Linked DNA regions of Homo sapiens: region 2 is linked to region 1. The links come from fine-mapping of genetic effects on gene expression. A gene starts in region 1. The other region holds a variant in brackets. All regions are shown on one strand. Distances are from middle to middle.

Evidence for each region. PIP is the estimated chance that this variant, and not a neighbour inherited with it, causes the effect.
Region 2: its variant is fine-mapped to the expression of CYP4F12 in whole blood (TOPMed, PIP above 0.99).

What each region holds. Positions count from the first base shown.
Region 1 is chr19:15,671,098-15,675,484 of GRCh38, reverse strand. It overlaps CYP4F12 (cytochrome P450 family 4 subfamily F member 12), which reads right to left and starts at 2,398. Exons shown (of 13, transcript NM_023944.4): 1 at 2,350-2,398; 2 at 1,758-1,956. The coding sequence starts at 1,955.
Region 2 is chr19:15,639,501-15,643,887 of GRCh38, reverse strand. CYP4F3 (cytochrome P450 family 4 subfamily F member 3) reads right to left here and starts at 2,991. Exons shown (of 13, transcript NM_000896.3): 1 at 2,943-2,991; 2 at 2,275-2,473. The coding sequence starts at 2,472. The variant G/A (reference allele first, on the strand shown) is at 1,831.

The DNA of each region.
Region 1 (4,387 bases):
TGTGTCCTGGTTGGTCCACATGGGCACTGGTTCCTCCCACAGACAAAGGGCCTGCGTCCTGAGGGCCCTCCATTCTCAGCAGCCTCCAGGGGAGCAGAGGTGACTCTAATGTCCATCAGGATGGCAGCTCCCACCTAGGAGAGCCTCACTTATGCCAGGTTCTGTGCTAGTGCCTCCTGTGCACCTGTGGACACACCGATCAATCCTGCCTTTTGTAAGTGAGCAGACAGAGGCCACATCCCCCAAAGGGGAGGGCCGGTCCCAGTCGGAGGGAAAGGTTTGGGAGTACCAAGGACGGCTTCTGAAAGGGGAAGGGAGTGGCCAAATTATATCCAGGTTGGGCTACAGGGCTCACTGGGACATCTTACTGGGGAAGAGCACATTGTCCCTGGAAGGAGAGGGTGTGGGAGACTGCCTGCACTTCTCTTCTGGTCCAGCTGTGTCCCTCCGTGGGGAAGGAAGTCAGAGATAATTCCTGCGGGAAAGCAGCAGCCCAGAGATGGGCAGATACAAGCAAATGGGCCATGCAGGGAGCAGCCTGTCTATCGGGGCTCAGAAGGCTTCAAGTCCAGCAGTGGAGAAGGTGGGAATGCCAGGAGAGCCCTGCTCTGTGCACCCCACAACCATACAGGAGCCTCTGGGAGGGGCACTACGGTAGGGAAGACAGGCAGGAAAAGGATCCAAGCAGGCTGAGGTGGGAGGACAGGGAGGTGAGAAAGGTTTGGCATGGAACTGCAGAGGAATGAATGAATGAGGAAAGGAATGAGTCGGTGGGTAGAGGAATCAGTGAATGAGGAGAGGAATGAGTGAGTGAGGAGAGGAATGAGTGAGTGGGGAGAGCAAAAAGTGAGTGGATAGAGGAATAAGTGAATGGGTAGAGGAATGAGTGAGTGGGCAGAGGAATGAGTGAGTGATGAGGGGAAGGAGTGAATGAGGAGAGGAATGAGTGAGCAGAGGAATGAGTGAGTGAGCAGACGAATAAGAGTGAGGAGAGGAATGAGTGAGTGAGGAGAGGAATGAGTGAATGAGAGGAATGCGCGAATGAGAGGAATGCGCGAGTGAGGAGAGGAATGAGTGAGTGAGGAGAGGAATGAGTGAGTGGGTAGAGGAATGAGTGAGTGAGGAGAGGAATGAGTGAGTGGGTAGAGGAATGAGTGAGTGAGGAGAGGAATGAGTGAGGAGGGGAATGAGTGAGTGAGGAGAGGAATGAGTGAGTGAGGAGGGCAATGTGTGAGTGGGTAGAGGAGTGAGTGAGTGGGTAGAGGATTGAGTGAGTGGGTAGAGGAGTGAGTGAGTGGGTAGAGGAATGAGTGAGTGAGGAGAGGAATGAGTGAGTGAGGAGAGGAATGAGTGAGTGAGGAGAGGAGTGAGTGAGTGAGGAAAGGAGTGAGTGAGTGGGTAGAGGAATGAGTGAGTGAGGAGAGGAATGAGTGAGTGAGGAGAGGAGTGAGTGAGTGGGTAGAGGAGTGAGTGAGTGGGTAGAGGAGTGAGTGGGTAGAGGAATGAGTGAGTGGGTAGAGGAATGAGTGAGTGGGTAGAGGAGTGAGTGAGTGGGTAGAGGAGTGAGTGAGTGGGTAGAGGAGTGAGTGGGTAGAGGAATGAGTGAGTTAGCAGAGGAATGAGTGAGCCATCTCTCTTGCTTCTCTGGGGTCGCAGACCCCAGCCACCATCAATACCTAGCTCACTGAGCCCCATTCCTGCTCCTCTGGAAGTCCATCCACCCTGAGACCCCAGACACATTTTGCTGTCACACTCACCAGGCCCAGGTGACCCCAAAACCAGTTCCGTTTTGGGGGCTGTGGGAAACACTGGAGCCGGCGGCAGTTGTTATAGAAGGCATAGGTCCAAGCCAGGATGCGGGCGAGTAGCCAGGAGCCCACAACCAGCAGCAGGAGTAGCCATGGGGACGTTGCCACCGGTCTGAGGCCCAGCCAGGGCAGGCTCAGCAGCGACATCCTGCAGGGCAGAGGGGATGCAGGGTGAGGACCTGAGGCCCAGGGAAGAGCTCCGGGGACAGTGTATAGGGGCGAAGTCAGGAACTGCTGGGGGCAGGGCAGGGAGGGCTCAGGGGTGAGTAAACGAGGGCTGAGATCTGAAGTCCAGAAAGTCCCAACCAAAACCAACAACTAAGTGGCCTCCAGTAACCTGGTAACCACACAGAAAGGGAAAGAGATGGGCCGATTAGAGTCCAGAAGGGCCCCACCTGAATCCTTGGGAGTTTGCTAGGAGTCCAGTTACCAGGAAACCCCCAGTTTCCCATGCCAGCATCTTGGAGCCACCCCAGCCTTAGGCAGTCCCCTCTTCATCCCAGGCCAGGACCTTCCAGCCCTGCCACCCCCAGCCTGGTACCTTCTGTCGGGAGCAGCTTGTCCCACACAACCTCTTCTCCTCTTCTGCTGGGAGGTCTTTGGCCCTGGCCCCTGATCTAGGGAAGGCCGTAGGAGGCGGGGCTGGGCTGGGCTGGGCTGAGGCAGCCAATCCCCACAGCCTGGGTGTGTCTTCCGTGCCTGGGCAGCCAGCCAAAACCTGGGGTTGGGCCCACTGGGTGCAGCTCAGGGTGCCCCAGCACGAGCACTGAATTCTCAGGTCTCAGTACCTTCTTGGGAGTTTGCAGGGGAAGTTGGAGGGTGGTTAGAGGGGACTCTGAACCCCAAGTTTACCTCCACCCTGCCCTTCCAAGACAAGGGTGTTCAGATAAAAGCATATACTTATCATGACAGTTGGCAGCCAGCTGAGCTGGGCCAGGCCAACCCTTGTCCCAGATCATCTGGGCTCCTCTCCAAACATGGGCGGGGAGGATGTCAGGCACTACATCTTGGTGCAGACTTAGGAGATTCAGAGACAGAAGCCTCTCATCTCTGGCTTCACAGCCTGGCAAGAGTTCAAGTCCTGCCTCCTGGCAGCCCAGGGCCTGAGTTGAGGCCTGACTGCTTGAAGCAGGAAGAAAGAATCCAGCCCCAACCCCGCTGAGGATTACCTTCGTCAGATTCTGGGGATAAAGAGCCCAGCTGGAGGAGCAAACCTAGAAGCTGGGCTCAGCTTAGGAGGACAGAGCGGAGGCACAGGGGATGAGGCTGAGAGGGGCCTTGAGCTGACGGGGTCCAGGCAGGGGAGGGCAGAGCAAGGGGATCCCGAGTGGAGTCCTTGTTCTGCCCTGTCCTTTCTCTGACTGTGGGCAGTGTGGCCATCCTGGGCTCAGGCTTCCCATCTGGGAAATGGGATGTCAGATGAGGCCTTAGAGGGCGACGGAGGAAGGCTCCTAAGAAAAGGGAGCTCCAAAAAGAGGGACTGAAGGGAAGGGGATGACAACTAGCACTTGAGCTGCTGTGTGCCTGTCTCTACTCCATGCGAAAGACTGTACGGAAAGCACTACTGTGTGCACCTACTGTGTGCCAGTTTCACTATATAAAGTGCACTTACTGTGTATCAGATACTGTACATAAATTCTGTCTACTATGTGCCAGGTATGCCACATAAAGCTCACCTACTGTGTGCAGCATGCTGTACATAATGTAAGCTTACTTTATGCAGAGTACTTCATATAAAGCGTGCCTACTCTGTGCCATGTGCTGTATATAAAGCATACCTACTGTGTGTCAGGTGCTCCACATTGAGCATGTGTACTACGTACCTGGTGACCCACAGAAAGCGCACCTACTCTGCATCAAGTAATCTACATAAATCTTGTCTACTGTGTGCTGGCTATTCTACATATAGTGCACCTACTGTGTGCCAGGAGCTCCACATAAATACTGTCTACTGTATGCTGGGAGCCCTTCACAAATCCTGTATCTTGAGTCCCTGGCCCTTTATATAAACCATGCTTGCTGTGTGCCAGGTGCTCTAAATAAAGCACACCTACTGTGTGCCAGATGTTCCACATAAAATGCTTCTCCCGTGTGTTAGGTCCCCTACATAAAGTAAAACTACTCGGTGCAACATACTTGACATAAAGCACACATACTGTGTGCCAGGTACACTATATAAAGTGTGCCTTATTGTGTGCCAGATATGCTACATAAAGAGCACCTACTGTGTGCCAGGTATGCCGCATAAAGTGTACCTACTATGTGCTAGGTACGCCACATAAAGTACACCTACTGTGTGCCAGGTGCTCTACATAAGGTGCACCTACTATGTGCCAGGTGCTCTATATAACGTGCACCTGCTTGTATCAGATGCTCACCTGCATCACAGTGCCCAAAGCTGTCCCACCACCCTCCCAACAGCTCCCTAGGCCAGAACCCTGGGCATTGTTGAAGAGACCTGAGTGATGGCATCCAGAGGAGAGAAGGTGTCCATTTAACACAAAAGCAAACTGAGGCTCAGAGAGGGCAGGCCTCTAGTCCAAGTTGCAGAGCTCATAGGAACTCAAGACTATGAGACC
Region 2 (4,387 bases), 32 kb after region 1:
CGTCACCTCCTGTCATGGTTAATTCTAGGTGTCCACTTGACTGGGCTAAAGGATGCCCAGATAGTTGATCATCCGTCTGTGAGGGTGTTTCCAGAAGAGACTGGCATTCAATTTGGTAAACTGAGGAAGGAAGAATCACCCTCCCCAGTGTGGGCAGAGCTCATTCAATCTGTTGAGAGCCCAGGTAGCACAAAAATGCAGAGGAAAGGCTAATTTGCTCTGTTGTGGGGCTGGCACATCCATCTTCTCCTGCCCTTGGACACCAGAACTCCACCGTCTCAGGCCTTTGGACTCAGTTACACAACCAGTGTCTGTTTATCCAGCCTGCAGACAGCAGTCCATGACGCATCTCAGCTTCTATAATCCTGTGAGCCAATTCCCGAAATAAACTCCCTCTTCTATCTATCTATCTGTCTGTCTGCCTGTCTGTCTATCTATCTATCTATCTATCTATCTATCTATCTATCTATCTATCTATCTATTTACCTATATATATCTCTACATATCTACCTATCTATGTATCTATATATGTATGTATGTATGTATCTATCTGTCTATCTATCTATCTATCTAATCTATCTATCTACCTATGTTTCTATGTATCTATCCATCTATCTAATCCATCCATTCTATCTTATATATCTGTCTATCTATCCATTCATCTATCCTATCTGTGCATCCATTCATCCATCTAGCCTATTATCTATCTACCTACCTATCTATCTATTCATTTATCTATCTAATCTATTCATCCTATCTAACTTTTCTATCTATATATCTATCTGCCCATCCATCCATCCATCCATCCATCTTATCTGTACATTCATCCACTCATCCATTTATCCTATTATCTATCAATCATCTAGCTATCTATCCATCCATCTAATCTATCCATCCTACATATCCACTCTACCTATCTATCCACCTAATGTATCCATCTTATCTACTACTTTATGTATGTATTATCCATCCATCCATCCATCCATCCATCCATCCATCCATCTTATCCATGCATCCATCTGTCCATCCATCCATCTATCCTGTTATCTATCTATCTATCTGTCTATCTACCCACCTACTTATCCAGCCAGCCAGCCATCTATTCACCCTATCTGTGCATCCATCCATCCATCTATCCTATTACCTATCTATCTGTCTACATTCCTCCTGCTCTATCTCTCTTGGGGCCACCCCCAAGTCCCAAGAGCGCATCCCAAGGCAGAAGGAAAAGACACACTGTCCACTCACAGAGGCCCACTTAGCTTGAGAGGAAAAATTTCCTTGTTCTGGGAGTCATTTCAGCCCAGAGGTGGGCATATGAGGAGGTCCTCACAGGGGAGGTTTGTGGGGAGCAGTGTGGACTCAGGACATGTCCCTAAGGCTGGTCCCCACATCCCTTCATGCCCTGGCTGGTTCCTCCACCAGCCACACAGGTTCCAGTTCCTCCCATGGAGAAGGTTCTGCACACAGGGGACCTTCCCTTCTCAGCAGTCACTAGGGGAGCAGAGGTGACTCTAACTGTCCATCATGACAGTGGCTCCCACCTGGGAGAAGCTTCTGCACCAGGCTCTGTGCTAGTGCATCCTGTGCACCCTCCCACTTCACCTGTGGACACACCCATCAATCCTGCCATTTGCAATGAGCAGATTGAGACCACGTTCCGCAAAGGGGAGAGCAGGTCTAAGTCAGAGGGCAAGGTCTGGGGGAGGAGAAAGGTCAGGGAAGGCTTCTGAAAGGGGAAGTGAGTGGCCAACTTTTATGTGGGTTTGGCAACAGGACCCCATTGGGACATCTTACTGGGGAGGAACAAGATAAGAGGAAGGTGCCTCC[G/A]GATGTGGTGGAGGTGAGAGACAGCCCACACCTCTCCTCTGGCCCACCTATACCCTCATAAGAGGAAATAGGCCAGGTAGGGAGAGGACCCTGAACAGTGGGTACAGGAGGCCTCGAGTCCAGCAATGGAGAATGTGGGAACGCCAGGGGTTCACCTTTCTGTGCACCCAACCCCCTGCCCAAGAGCCCCGCAGAGGTGCATTAATGTGGAAAGACAGGCAGGAAAAGGATTCAACACAGGCCAAGAGTGGGAGAACAGGGAGGTGAGAAGGGCTTGGGTTGGCACCTCACAGAAATGAGTAAGCAGAGGAATGAGTAAGACGCCTCCCCTGCTTCTCTGCCACCCCAGACCCCAGCCCACCCCCTCTCACCTGAGCCTCATTCTTACCCCTCAGGAAGTCCATCCACCCTGAGACCCCAGACCCGTCCTGCTGCCACACTCACCAGGCCCAGGTGACCCAAGAACCAATTCCGTTTCGGGGGTTGCGGGAAACACCGGAGGCGGCAGCAGTTGTCATAGAAGGTATAGGTCCAGGCCAGGATGCGGGCCAGGAGCCAGGAGGCCCCAACCAGCAGCAGGAGCAGCCACGGGGATGCTGCCATTGGCCAAAGGCCCAGCGAGGACAGGCTCAGCTGTGGCATCCTGCAGGGCAGATGGGGTGGTGAGTGAGGTCCTGAGGCCCAGGGAAGGGCCCAGGGAGCTCCAGGGACAGTGGAGAGAGGCAGAGACGGGCAGTGCTGGAGATAGAACAGTAAGAGTAAACAGGGATGGATAAACAGGGGCTGAGGGGTAAAGTCCAGAAAGGCCCAGCCAAAACCAGCAACCAAGTGGCCTCCAGTTACCCGGTAAGCACTTAGATTGAGAAAGACAGAGAAACTGATTAAAGTCCAGAAAGGCCCAGCCTGAATCATTAGGACGTTGCCAGGGGCTTGGTTTCAGTTAGAAAACCACTCATCCTCCAAGCCAGCAACCAGGAGCTGCCTGGGCCTTGGGCAGCAATGGAGAATGTGGGAAGGCTGGGGCTCCCCTATGTGTGCGCCCAATCCCTTGCCCAGTGCCCATCTCCATCACAGGCTAGGATGCCCCAGGCCCACCACCCCCACCCTGGCACCTTCTGTCAGGAGCACCTTGTCCCACACAACCTCCTCTCCCCTTCTTCTGGGAGGTTTTTTCCCCTGGCCCCTGATGTAGGGAAGGCTGTGGGAGGCTAGGCTGGGCTGGGCTGGGCCAGCCAATCCCCACAGCCTGGGTGCCGCTCCCATGTCTGGGCAGCTGGCCAAAACCTGGGTGTGGGAGACCAGCTGGATGCAGAGGAACCAGCTCAGGGTGACACAGCACAGGCACTGGATCCTCAGGTCTCAGCACCTCCCACATAAGGTGGAGAGTAAGCCGAGAGGGGTCAGATAGAGTTTCCACTGTGTGACACCTGCTCTTAAAGAGCACCTACTGAGTGTGTGGCAGATAAAAGCATGAACTTGAGAGTTCAGGTGTCAAGCGAGCCAGGCCAGGCCAAGCCTTGTTCCAGATCATCTCCTGTGCTCCTCTCTAACCCTGGGCCGGTAGGACACCGTGTACCACTTCTGGATGCTGAATCAGGCAACCTGGAAGAGACAAGCCTCTATCCCCCTGCTGCTGGATGGAGTTCAAGTCTTGCCTCCAGGCAGTCCAGGGCCCTGTTGGAGACCTGACTGCTAGGAACGGGAACAAAGAATCCAGCCCCACTGAGGATTACCTGGGTCAGATTCTGGAGATTAAGAGCTCAGCTGGAAAAGCAAATCTGGAGGCCGGACTCAGTATAGGAGGACAGAGCGGGGACGTGGAGGGTTAGGATGAGAGGGAACGGATGGGGTCCAGGCAGGGGAAGGGCAGAGCCAGGGAACCATGAATGGAGTCCTCATTCTGCCTCATCCTTGCTCTGACTTTGGTCAGTACTGCCCCTCCTGGGTGCAGTCTTCCCATCTGGGAAATGGGATGTTCGATGAGGGCCTTAGCGGGGGACAATGAGGGCTCCTAAGAGGAGGGAGCCCCAAAAAGGAGTGAAGGGAAAGGGTGGCAACTAGCACTTGAGCTGCTGTGTGCCAGTCTCTACTCTGCACAAAGGCTGCATGGAAAGTACTTCTACTGTGTGCCAATACTCTAAATGAAGGGCAGCTACTGTGTGCCAGGTGCTAAATCCTGTCTACTCTGTGCCAAGTGCTTTCCATAAAGTGTGCCTACTGTGTGCCAGGTGCTCTACATTAACCCTGTATACTCAGTTCCTGATATTCCTCATAGAGTGCCTACTGTGTGCCACCTGCTCTACATAGTGAGTGCCTATTGAGTGCCACCCCCTGTATATGAAGAGTGCCCACTGAGCACCAGTTGCTGTCTACATAACACATGCCTACTGAGTGCCAAGTGCTCTACATAAACAGTGCCTACTGATACCACCTGCTCTATATGGTGACTTCCTACTGAGTGTTTCCTGATCTACATAAAGAGGGTCTATTGAGTGCTGCCTGCTCGAGTGTTGCCTGTGCTCCATAAAGTGTACCTACTGTGGGCTGCCTTCTGTAC